3 separate regions of the Homo sapiens genome follow, and regions 1 and 2 are each linked to region 3. Evidence: fine-mapped expression QTL. A gene starts in region 3. Each other region holds a variant in brackets. All regions are shown on one strand. Distances are between the middles of the regions.

Region 1 (4,193 bases), 42 kb before region 3:
GCATCAATATGGTGACCTCCCGGAAGCGGGGGAACAGCAGGTTGCCTAAGGAGGGGTGGACCGGCCCAGGTCGGAAATTGAGCAGGTCAAAACTCCCGTGCTGATCAGTAGTGGGATCGTGCCTGTGCTGTCAGCAGATCTGAGCTTTCTTCTTGGACACCTTATACCCACAGTCCTCCAGGTGCCAAAGCAGGGCATCCGTCCCTTTAGCACACCTGACTGCTGTGGAGTGTCCCAGCAGAAGGTTGTCCACGTACAGGAGCAAGATGCAGCCTAAGTCTTTAGCAGGAAGCTTTTGCAGGTCTCGAGCCAGGGCCTCCCCAAAGATAGTAGGGGAGTTCTTGAACCTTTGGGGAAGCCGGGTCCAAGTGTACTGAGTAGTGACACGTGACTCCGGATCTTCCCACTGAAAGGCAAACAGCTTCTGGCTCTCAGGAGCTAGTCTGATGCAAAAGAAGGCATATTTTAAGTCCAGACAGGTAAACCAGCTGTCCTCAGCTAGCAGCAGCCCTAATAATGTGTAAGGGTTAGGAACTGTTGGGTGCAGAGTCACTGTAGCTTGGTTGACCAAGCATAAGTCCTGTACTGGCTGGTAGTCCTTGGTCCCTGGCTTAGGCACAGGCAGGAGGGGGGTGTGCCATGGAGACTAGCAAAGAACTATAATTCCATAGGCTTTGAAGTGCCTGAGATGAACCTGGATTCCTTTAAGAGCTTCTCTGGGAACTGGATACTGCTTTTGTCTAATTGGTTGTGCCCCAGGCTTAACTTCTATGAGTATGGGGGCTTGGTTGACCACCAGTCCTGGAGGATTATCCTCTGCCCATACTCGGGGCCATTGCTTAGCTAGAGCTGATTTTATCTCTTGGCCTGGCTTGGTTAGAAAAAGTCTCCATTCTTCTTCCCGGGGGACCGTAAGGGCCTTGATAACTCCTGTTCCCGGTAACTTTAGCTGTAAAGAGCCCTGTTTTGTAAAGCAGATGGTGGCTCTCAGCTTGCTAAGCAGGACTCTTCCCAGCAATAGCAAAGGACAGTCAGGCATGTACAAGAACTGGTGAACTATCTTATGTCCCCACACCAAGCAGGTCCGTGGTAGACAGAAAGCCTGCTTAGTGGAAACTCCTGTTGCTCTGATTATATCAATGGTTTTCTTGGATAAGGGGGCGACCAGGGTTGTCACTACTGAATGTTCAGCACCAGTATCGACCAAAAATTTAATGTCCTTGCCCCTAATTGTAATCCTGACCATGGGCTCCTTGGTGGTGCTTGAGCCCGGTCCCCTTCAGTCCAGTAGCCCTTCAGCCAGATTGAACAAAGCTCCCTCATCTTTATCTGAGGTCTTTTGTTCTGAATCACCTTGCTTTTCCTTCAGCTGGGGACACTTATCTTTCCAATGTCTTATTTCCTTATAGTAGGTGCATTGGTTATGTTGCAAGCGTGGGGGATTAGACTGGGTATTCTTCCCGGAACCCCCCCTTTCCCTCTCCTTTCAGAGGAATTCCCCTAATGGCCGTGGCCAGTAAGTTGGCGTTTCGCCTAGCCTGGCGTTCACCTTCCTTACGGCTTTCTCTGCGGCTTGTTGCATCTCTATTCACAAACACTTGATTGGCTGTTTCCAGTAACTGTGAGGTATTCACACCTGCAAACTCAGCCTTGTTTCTGCAATTTTCTCCTGATATCTTTCACGCTTTGACTAACTAAGGCCATGTTAATCATGCGCTGATCTTCAGGGCTATCTGGATCAAAAGGAGTGTACATACGGTAAGCCTCACACAGTCTTTCATAGAATTGTGCCGGACTCTCCTCTTTTCCTTGGATGACCTCAGAGACCTTATTTACATTTGTAGCCTTTTGAGACCCTTTCTTTAGACCTTCTATTAATGTCTCACGGTACCATCTTAGCCTCT[C/T]CACGTCTGGTCCCTCATTCGGGTCCCGTTGGGGGTCTGTTCCTGGCAGCTGAATTCTTATATATTCTTGGGGGTTTTGGTAATCGGCTGGGACGTGCTCTTCTAGCCACTTAGTTGCTGCCTGGAGCACCCTTCACCTTTCATCTGTATTAAAGAGGTACATGAGCAGCTGAGGCCATCAGCCCAAGTAGGATTATGAGTCTGTATAATAGTTTGGAGCAAGTCAATTAAAGCTTGAGGCTTTTCAGTGTAAGATGGAGTATTATTTTTCCAATTGAGGAGGTCAGCAGAGGTGAAAGGTTGATACACAAAGGCACACCTTTCCACCATGTGTCCGTCCTCATCTACCCCAGTATATCGCTGCTGTCTCAGGGGCATTTGGATTCCAGTCTTGGGCAGTAAGCGAGCTGCCAAGGGAGGAGTTTCTCCTGCGGCTTCACTTCCTCTTTTGTCTACTCTGGGCGGTCTAGGGGTGTGGTTATCTGGTGGAGGTGGAGGTGCTGTGGGCTCAGGGCTTGGGGAGCCCTTCCTCTCCATAAGGAGGGGGTACTGCTGGTACCAATTCCTGCCATGATTCTTCTGGTGTTGGGTCGGACAGACTTTTGGTGCCGACTTCCCTCTGCGGGTGGAGCGAGAACCTTCCTTAACGAACTGTTCCTTTGCTGCTAGTACTGCTGCTGCCTGTCCTCTTAACCACTGTGGGGGGTCCAAAACTAGCTGTAACCAAGAATCTATATATGGGAAGTGATCTGGGTGTCCTGGCTTACAGGTTACCCTGTGCCGTACTTTCGAGACAAGGGACCTGTCCAGGCTTTCTTCTGATGGCCAACCCACCTCTATGGCCAGTCTATCTCACACAAAGTTCTAAGTTTTCCTGGTATCATGATGCCTCTATAGTCTCCCTTAAATCCCTTTTTGAAATTTTTCAATATAGTTCCTAGTGGGGTGGGCTTACTTTGTGCCTGACCCATATTTCCTCGAGACAAAACACCACACTCACACCACACGCACACCACAAAATGAAGAACGGGTAAAAAGGGCACACACACACTTTTACAGTTTACACCAAACCAGAATCAAAACCAAAATCAGAGTATCAAGAAATCCAAGCCAGGTCAAAACCAAAACCAAAGTATCAAGCAATTCAAGTCAAGTCAAAAACAAAAACCAAAGTGCCAGTACAGGCATGCTGTGGGTGATCAGGCCATGCTTCCACTCAAATGGAGTGGGCAAGTTCCAAAGACTAGTCTTACCAAGTTTCAGATGTCCGGACTCCAAGTGCCAGTTCCTTCCCGGTGTTCAGCCACTGTGTTGATCCTCCACGGGGGCCTGCCATGTGCTGCTCTGGCGAGGCATTCCACTGGGGCAATTGCCTACCCGGGAGCGCTCTCAGGATCCACGTCGCTCAAGCTGGCCAGAGTCCCCTGCAGGGATGCTCCACAGGGCAGGCCTAAGCCGCCTAAGGGGCTGCCTCCACTGTCCGTTAATCACCACGTTTCCTGGTCAGGGAACCAAGAAATGTAGCAGGACAAGCCGCAGACAAAACCCCTCAGACACTGAGTTAAAGAAGGAAGTGGTTTATTCCACCGGGAGCATCAGCAAGACTCCTGTCTCAAGAGCTGAGCTCCCTGAGTGAGCAATTCCTGTCCCTTTTAAGGGCTCACAACTCTAAGGGGGTCGCTTGAGAGGGTCGTGATTGATTGAGCAAGCAGGGGGTACATGACTGGGGGCTGCGTGCACCGGTAATTAGAACGGAACAGAATAGGACAGGGATTTTCACAGTGCTTTTCTATACAATGTCTGTAATCTATAGATAACATAACCAATTAGGTCAGGGGTTGATCTTTAACTACCAGGCCCAGGGTGTGGCACTGGGTTGTCTGCTTGTGGATTTCATTTCTGCCTTTTAGTTTTTACTTCTTTCTTTGGAGGCAAAAATTGGGTATAAGACAATATGAGGGGTGGTCTCCTCCCTTAAACCTGGTGGAATGCAACTGAAGGAGAAGGATTGGAGATCTGCACTTATCAAAACAGCAAATCAACAAAAAGGTAAACAGCTTATTTTTCTGAATTTTGAAAACATTTTATGATGCTGCCTACATTTATTAAAGAACACATGACCATAATGATAATAGTGAAAATTAAGTGATGATTAATAGTCTCTCTCTCTGTTTTTATGTGTGAATATTTCCATATTAGGAAAAAGAAGTGTCTTTGTTTCTTAAGGTCCGATGCTCCAAAATGGAATAACGTGACTTATAACCCTAAATATCTACTCTCATGACTGAC
Region 2 (4,241 bases), 92 kb before region 3:
AATGTGTGTGTGTTCATGGATTACACATATTATATACATTATTGTATTGTATGTGTATTACGTAATAATAGGTATAGAGAACAAAAAATAAGTTTTTTCAAAATTATGCACATTATTCAATTGTATGATCTTTAAGATTCAAAAATGAATTAAAGTTTTCATATCAGATGAATTACTGAAACAATATTTTGGGTTCGCTGAAACACTATGGTGAATATGCGGTTCAAAGAAGAAAAATATTCTTGTTGAAATGATTCAGGCATATTGTAGATGGCTGTACTAGGTGACTTTTAGGTGACTTCTTTATAACTTTATAAAGTTATTTTAGTCTAATCTCTTCTAAATTTATAAGGGCCTATGACTCTAGAAAAGGCAATATAATGAAATTTTTTAAAATCCATGTTTTGGAATCCTATGTGACAGGGCTTAAATCCTAGCTTAGGGCAAGTTTCTTAATATCTAAAAGACTCTATTTCAGTTGTTTCTTTTGAATTGTAGGGAATCTATCTCTCCTCTCTCTTCTCTCCCTCCCTCTCTGACATCTGTGGTAAAGATTAAATAAAATATTGCATATAAAGCCATGTACAATATATATTAATAAAAGCCACTGCCTAGCTAAGGGCCCAATTAAGAGTAGCTGTTCTACCTGTGTATGGCTGATAACATTTTTAGTTATCAACTGAGATTTCTTTACTCCTTTATACTTGCTTTAATACTCTATAAAGGTGGTTCACTGAGGGATGATGCACTTAATCTAGAACAAACGATCACTTAAGTTTCTGTTTTTTAAAATCTAAACAAAGAGCCATAGTCTTGAAAGTCAGCATTATTTATGACAATAGCCTGACTTTTTGAAAGAAAAGATTTATTGAGCTATCTGAAACTGAAGAACTGAGAACAAACCGTAGAGTGGGAATTACTATATGATGATGTAAAAGTTTTGATGTTTCTGGGAAGGGAAATGAGTCATTGACTAGCTAGTGGGAGAAGAATTCAGGATGTAATGAGACCCCAGTCATTATTCAAGTCTCTGTGAAGGTGGCCAGGATTCCAGCTCACTGGGTTGAACAGAAGGGAGATTGAATAATAAAAATTCTAAGGAACATCCAAATGTAAAGAGGACTATCCCTCACTTCCCAGGGAAAATTTGGGTATCAAAAAGAAGCTCTCTTTGTATGTTCTTCGACCCTAGAAAGGTAGACAAGCAATGGTCAAGAGAAGTGCCCAGGCAGATGGGCCTGACTGCCACCTCACAGAGTTCTCAGCCCCTCAGAGGAGTGAAACTCTGAAGTGATTTCATGGACCTCATGGAGGGCATAGAATGATTTAAATAGACCGTCAACCTTAAAGTCCAGAGATGTAACAAAGAGGATGCAGATGCACATATCTCTACCTGAGGTAATAGTTATACCTGAGACAATAGCAGTGGATCCCTGTGCACACTGATGTAACTGGACACATTGCAGCTCAGTGAGGGTCAGCGTGGACACAGGATATGTGTGAACCTGATGCCTTTTCTCCACACTTCAGTCTCCCTTTCATGAGAGAAAGGAACATGCTATTAGTGGTAGGGTGTCTTAGTCACCTCCTATTTACCCTGTGGGTGAGGGAGAGCTAAACACCACCTGACCCTGAAGAGATGAGACCAACAGCAAGTTATTAGTCATGTCTACTGATGGCCTGGGGGAGGAGGACATGGCACACCTTGCAGGGCCACACAGGAGTTGCACTCAAGAGCAGAGTGAACAACCAGGTCTGTAGGAGGTAGCCTTTGGAGAATTAAGAGGGTAGGGTGCTCCCAGTTCTTGTGGAATGATGTGATTCACTTGTTTGATTTGGCAGGCAAACAGAGAACAAAACCTGCTACTCAAGGATAAATAGAAACTGTGCCTGGTCCCCTTCATAAGGATGGTGGTCTGTCTAGGATACCTGATCTATGGGAGGAGAACTTGTAGTTAGGCCATTAGAGACCTGTTTTATCAGATATCAAGCCTAAATTTTTGGCTTTATGCTACAATTGATCACTTGATGCTTTGAC[A/G]TCAGTTTAAATCTTGATGATAACTGAGACTTTTAGGGATTAGGAGATGTGCCTTCCTAGGAAGCAAAGTAGGCACCTGACCAAGCAGAGAGGGCCACATTTTGAGGTGGTTGCCAAAAACATGAACTTCGGGCATGTCTCCATATATAACCAGTAAAAGCAATTGAGAGACCTGTGTGACATTGATGTAGAGAGTGGATGCTCCCAGGGGGTGTGAATTGAGACTAACCAATGCTTGTGGCAGTGGTGACATCAAGGGGGTAGAGGGACATTTGTCTCATTGTGACTTAAATAGTTCTTTGAAAACCCATTAGGCTTATCAATTAAAGTAGCTGCCTGGGGCTAACTACCTGAGGCCTATGGGAAGGCTGCATTTCAATGGAAAGCTTTCTTCAAGATTCCATTGTGTATTCTGAGACATAAAATGAGTGCCTTGGTAACAATCTAGTGTCTAAAACTGCAAATGAGATAAGGAATATCCTGTTGAGGCCTTGTATTGTGGCCTTAGGATATGTAGAGAAACCTGTTGATTTGGTTTATATATTTATATTTGGGTACCTGTGAAACAAGAGATTCACAGAGTTCTTTAAAGTGAGACCCTTAGGCAATGGTCTAAGAGTTGTAAAAATATACATATGAGGTGAAATGGCCAGGGCATCCATTGCCAAGATAAATGTCTAGAGTGTGCCAATTGTGCTGACCCTTGGGTTCTATTCTTTATCAGGGACATCTTGGTTAAGGAATTAAGAGCAACAACTCTCTACTGAGCTCTATCATGTATAATTGTGGCAACATCATTGGTAAAATGTATGGCCTTCTATTGCCATTCATTCAGTTGATCCCAGGGGGCTCTCCAGGTAGCCAAGGACTCTAGGAAAGGGATGACTTCCCCTAGCACCATGGTTTTGGCAAAGGACTGATGGTAGAGGAGGCCACCACCTTCTACAGATAGAATATGCCAGAAGGGCCAAGCTTGACTCCATCCTGTCGCAAAGAGGTCTCATAGCTAGGCCAGATTCATGGGGGTGCTGCTCCAATGCATTACCAGGCATTGCAGTAGCTGGGTACAGAGGGTCACAGGCTCAAAGTCTGTGAGACCCTCTATTTCCAGAAAAGCCCAGTGTGTGGCCAGTAATTGCCACTGTAATGGTGTATAGTACAAGGCCAGGAAAGGCAGTTTCTTGCATCAGAAGCCCATGAGCAACTTATGACCATCACAGGTGGCCTAGAGACTCCAGGAGGCATGAGATGAGGTCGCTGAAGCCTCTGAGGGCACTAACTGGAGTGCCTGTTGATTTCATTTTGGACAGCTTCTACAGCCTTTTGTTGAGGAGGTTCCCCTTTAAGATGGGCAATCTGTAAGTAACAGCACTAGTGAAATTAAAGAAAATTTGCAAAAGAATATGTTGTCTCCAGAACCCAAAAAAGACTAAAAGATGTTGGACTTGTATTAACCTTGTAGGTACTGAGAGGGTTAATACCTGTTTTTTGACAGTATCAGGGATGGAGCAGCTTTTGCTTTACCAAATAACTTTCAGGAATTTAACAGAAGTCACAGGACTTTGTACTATGTGTGAAATATCCACCCTTTTTGTGTGAGTTCCTTTGTATTTGTATATTCTTAATGAATACGTCAAACAAATCTTCCTGGAGAAGGATGTCATCAATGTAATATACCTGTGCTCCTGGAGAAAGGTGGATGTCATTAAGATCCTGCCTGCAAAGACTGTGTGCAGTAGCAAGGCTGCTGAGGTAGCCCTTGAGTAGCCTGGTAAAAATATATTATGTAGCAGCGCACCAGCATGGCACATGTATACATATGTAACTAACCTGCACAATGTGCACATGTACCCTAAAACTTAAAGTATAATAATAAAAAAAAAAGAATTGCATTTGTGAACTAAAATATATATATATATATTGTGTCTCATGGGAGGTAAAAGCAAACTGTGACTGCTAAACTGCTGACATTGGCACCAAATGGATCATATTAGCCTAATTCATAGTAGCAAAATATTTATCAGTTGCTGATTGGATGGAGTCAGAAGTTTCAATACTCAGTTTGTTGGAAATAGGGACCTGAACTGTATGGGACCATGGCATTAAGGTTGCAGCAGTCTACTGTGCTGCACCATTTATTTGTTCCAGGTTTAAGGACAGGCCAAACAGGCCAGATTGGGTTGTTAAATGGAGAAGCAGTGGG
Region 3 (4,241 bases):
GATGTTAATTACGCATGTCCAACCCCCCCATCCCCTTTTTCATGGCCTGAACCAGTCTTTCAGGTTAAATTTTAGAGTGCCCTGACTGGGGAAAGAGTCCATACAGATGGTCGTCCATTCAGATGGTTGTGGGGGGCCTTCAAATTTTATTTTTGGTTTACAAAACAGAAAATGGAAGCACCTTGCTTCCCACTTCAAAGCCCGTTTCATGACACACACTCCCATTAAATTACATGGGATACAAAACAAAGCTTTCTATGCTGGGAAAGAAATACACTCTACAACATCTTTTTTGAGGTTAGTAATTATGGAAAGCATTTTCTTCTGCAAAGGAATTCCACGCCCTATAAATTTAAATTATTAGCTTGTCATCTCCAAGAGATCAGCATCCTCATAAACGGTGAGAGAAGGAACACAGAATACAGGATCCAGCACAGTTTCGGGATTCTGGCTTCTTTGCCAGACTTATCTTTGCTTACTTCTTTGTATAGACTTACTTCTTTGCCAGACTTATCTTTGCTTACTTCTTTGTATAGACTTACTTCTTTGCCAGAAGTATATTCAAAAAAGTTCCGTGGAAGCATCAAATCAACCACCTCTACTTATGATTTCCATGCATCTCTGGAATGCATAAAGCATGATTTCAGAACATGTTCTAATTCTAAGACCCTTCTCTTCCCGGCAGTTTAAAAAAAACAAAAAACAAAACGTCGTATCTTTGAGCATTGGTTTTCAAACATCACAATCACTTTAACATGACCTGAAATGCTTGTGAAAACACAAACTGCTGGGCTCCAGCAGGTTTCTGACTCAACAGGTCTAGGGTGGTGCCTGGGAATTTGCATTTCTAACTAGAGTTCCCAGGTGGTGCTAATGTTCCCAGTTCAGAGACTTCAATTCGAGATCCACTGCAGTATCCATAACTTTTGCTGATTTCCTTCAAATCATGATACTTCAGGGCTCTCTGCATCACCTCTACTGAGGAGCCCTACCCATTAAAGCTGGGGTAGGTTGGCCCAAGAATGGAACCGGGATCGTTGAGATTTCAGCACCCCAGCATTTTTTAGTGACTGAAATAATGAAAATTCTGATCAGGCTCCTGCTTGCTTGCACATTTTAACCACTCGCTTTTTGCCCAATATTCTCCTTGTTTCCACAATATAATTATAAACTGCTGAGGTACTGCTTCCTCGTCAAGAACAAAGAGGTTAACTTCAGGGTCACAAAAATGTTTGCAGAAGGGATGAATACCTCCAAGGGCTTTGCAACCAGCTGCGGATGCCTGGACGTCTAATTGCTCAAAGGTGTTATCTGAGACTGAAGAAACAGACTTTTCCCCTGGATTCTTTGAAAATCCCCCTCTCTTATTCTCTAGCAGAATAAAAACTCCCTGCTTTTTCCTTTTTACACACGGATTTGAGAGATCTTGTTCTCCCTCCTTCTGGCTTTTACTAAATTGAATGTCTTTCTCTATCCCCAAGCACCAGTATGTCAGTGTTTGACATCAACTGCACCACTGATACACGAGTCGGAATTTGAGCTTCTACAAGTACATTCCTTCCTAGGCCAAACACTGACGCTAAGAAATACGAGAACAGATCATCGCTAAACAGCAGCTGAAGGTCAGGCGAACTGACTCGCTGCGGAATCTGCCTTTGCACGTGATCAGTCGGACGTCTACACCCGCAGCCGTCTTCTGTCTCCGCCTCACCCTCAGGCCTGACGGTCCGAGTGGAGCTGCGGGACAGCCCGAACCTCCAGGTCAGCCCCGCGGCCCTCCATGGCGCTGGTGCGCGCACTCGTCTGCTGCCTGCTGACTGCCTGGCACTGCCGCTCCGGCCTCGGGCTGCCCGTGGCGCCCGCAGGCGGCAGGAATCCTCCTCCGGCGATAGGTGAGTTGTCCGCGACCCTTCTCTTCCCAGCCGGCAAAGAGCGCGGAGCGGCGGCGCCTGCGCACAGCAGGAGAAAGTGCGTGGGGGCAGCTGCCCCCGGCAGAGGCTCGGGCTAGCGGGGCCCCTGACGCGTCCGGCGTTGACCACGGCTGGTGGGCGCGGGGAGGGCGACCAAGGGACTACAGCGTTAGGGCGTCCAGCCGGGAGGCCGGGGCTGGGCGGGGGAAATGCCCTCGCCGGTGGGGGCGCTCCAAGGGCGCGTCGGCCGGATTTCGCCAGCCTGGCTTTTGTTTACATCCTGCATCTCAGTTGTTTTGTTCCTTGGGGAAGGAAGGAAAAGCTGCGGGACTCAAGGGAAGAGGAAGCTGGGAGTCCGATGTCCAGCACAGCAAGAGGCCCCTAATCGGTCCTGAATGGAGGGGGACTGCAGTTTCCCCACCAGCTCAGGGAAGTAAATTTCAGCGTGACTCACACTATCTTCTGTCTTGCTCGACCGAGATCAGTGGCTTTTTCTGCCACTCACCCAGCCAGAGCGCGAAAGCACCCTCGGGTAGACTCACCCCTTAGTCTACCGTGGAACTCACGGGGACTTCATTTCACCTGGATGTCCACTAGGTTTCCTGCGGGCGGGACCCATTTTATTCACTCCCAGCACTTAACACAGTGCCCGTTACAGTAGTGATTCTCTTAAGTGTGCCCTGGACCGGTGGCAGCAGCCGCCGCACTTAAAATTGTTAGCATTGCAAATTTCCAGCCCATCCCAGACCTACTGAATCTGAAACGCCGGCGTTGGGCTTCCACAGTATGCTGTTTAACCCACCCTCCGCATGATTCCTTTCGGCTAAGTTTGAGACTCACTGGTCCAGAATAGATACATTTTGGTGGGAGATTGTACAATGCCATCCGAGCCTCCAGTTCCAAAAATCAAGGTGCCCTCACCTCCTCAACTCCCTTTAAAAATAATTGCACTGTTAAGAGGAAAAACAAAATTAGAGAAGTGGGGTTCTGTTTTCTTTTAGGGGAGAGTTGTCCCTGAGACTCGGTAGCAGCACCTAGTGCTGAAACCTCTTTCGCTCCCTCTGTGCTTTCTCAGGACTTGGGAGCGCTCTAGGGCAAATATCTTCTCTTTGAAGGCCAAGTCCTCACGACTCAGCTGTCAGGTCTGAAGCAAAAACTGTAAATCTGGTTTCCGAACTGTGGCAAATGTCAGTCATTACAAGAAATTTCCCCAAAATGTTTATGTATACTGGTTTCTGCTTTTATTACGGCTTAGCTTGTGTTCCTTTAATTATGTGACCGGTTAGGGTTTTGAAATAAAATGTCTCACGTTGCTTGAGGCCACACAATGGCAAATTCACCTGTGTTTTAAAGAGGCCTGAATGAGCGCTTTCTGGGGACTCTGTGAGTCTTCACACCTCCTGTTTGGGAAACTGCAAGGTTGAATCCCCTCCTACTAAAGGGGAAGGAAGAGGGGTTACTGGAGTTCAGTGGTCTGAAGTGTTACTGGAGTCACTGGAGTTCGAAAGTCTGAAGTGTTACTGGAGTTCAAAGGTCTGAAGTGTTCACTCAGCAGTTTCACAATTCTCCTTGTTTGTAATATTTTGCGTATTTTCCACTTGATGTGACAACTCTCCTGCCTCCTCTCAGCCCCACATGCTTGGACTTCCTTTCAGCATCCACCCTGCCTGGCTACTGCTTTCTTGTTTTGTGTTTTTGCGTTTAAATTCCCAGTCTTAGTTTTCTGCCCTGTCAAGTCCTGGTGGTCGGACGACAGAAGTTCTAGGAAGCTTCACCTGTGTGTTTTTGGCTACAGTTCTTTAGATTGAGTAGGCTGGGACTGGCTTGTGTATTGGTACTGTTAAAGCAAACTAAATACGGCCTGAGAAGGACTCCTTACTTCTATATTTGAATCCTTGTGAATGAACTGTAACCTAGCTTAATAGTCAGATGAGACTGAAAACCTAACTTAAGAGTATGCACTGGTAACAATAGCTAAGTTTGGCCAATCCCAGCAGCCATACTTCAACCATTCATATACTGCTGAGTGTTCAAACTATGTTCAAATAAGGCATAAGGCGAGCTGAATTATGTCTGAACTATGGTTCATTGGATTCTTGAGAAGTTATAAAATATTTTGGATTAAAAGATTTTCTGGTATAATTTTGAGAGTTTTTCTAGATTTGCTGAACACACACACATATTTTTGGAAGTCTTTTTAAAAATTTATTTTATTATTTTATTTTATTTTTTATTTTGAGACAGTCTCGCCCTGTCACCCAGGCTGGACTGCAGTGGCGCAATCTCGGCTCACTGCAAACTCCGCCTCCCGGGTTCACGCCATTCTCCTGC

Which allele goes with the higher level. Alleles are on the strand shown, and positions count from the first base shown. SD is a standard deviation of normalised expression in the study named. Not every link is listed here.
For the expression in non-classical monocytes of the gene that starts at base 1,692 in region 3, A is the high allele of the variant in region 2 and G is the other (large effect, 0.90 SD a copy in Schmiedel 2018).

Evidence for each region. PIP is the estimated chance that this variant, and not a neighbour inherited with it, causes the effect. A credible set is the group of variants that fine-mapping cannot tell apart.
Region 1: its variant is the best candidate, but not a certain one, in a credible set for the expression of SMPDL3A in whole blood (TOPMed, PIP 0.55).
Region 2: its variant is the best candidate, but not a certain one, in a credible set for the expression of SMPDL3A in non-classical monocytes (Schmiedel 2018, PIP 0.87).

The regions. Positions count from the first base shown.
Region 1 is chr6:122,745,382-122,749,574 of GRCh38, forward strand. It overlaps the pseudogene RN7SL564P and a transcript of FABP7 not described here. Among named protein-coding and RNA genes, the nearest start is that of FABP7, 32 kb to the right of the region's middle. The variant C/T (reference allele first, on the strand shown) is at 1,905.
Region 2 is chr6:122,695,342-122,699,582 of GRCh38, forward strand. The region is part of intron 3 of PKIB (cAMP-dependent protein kinase inhibitor beta); the gene reads left to right. Among named protein-coding and RNA genes, the nearest start is that of FABP7, 82 kb to the right of the region's middle. RefSeq lists an enhancer at 586-1,785. The variant A/G (reference allele first, on the strand shown) is at 2,039.
Region 3 is chr6:122,787,567-122,791,807 of GRCh38, forward strand. SMPDL3A (sphingomyelin phosphodiesterase acid like 3A) reads left to right here and starts at 1,692. Exons shown (of 8, transcript NM_006714.5): 1 at 1,692-1,892. The coding sequence starts at 1,781. RefSeq lists enhancers at 1,502-2,003, 2,004-2,503, 3,607-3,776, silencers at 1,718-2,012, 3,118-3,412 and a cis regulatory region at 3,692.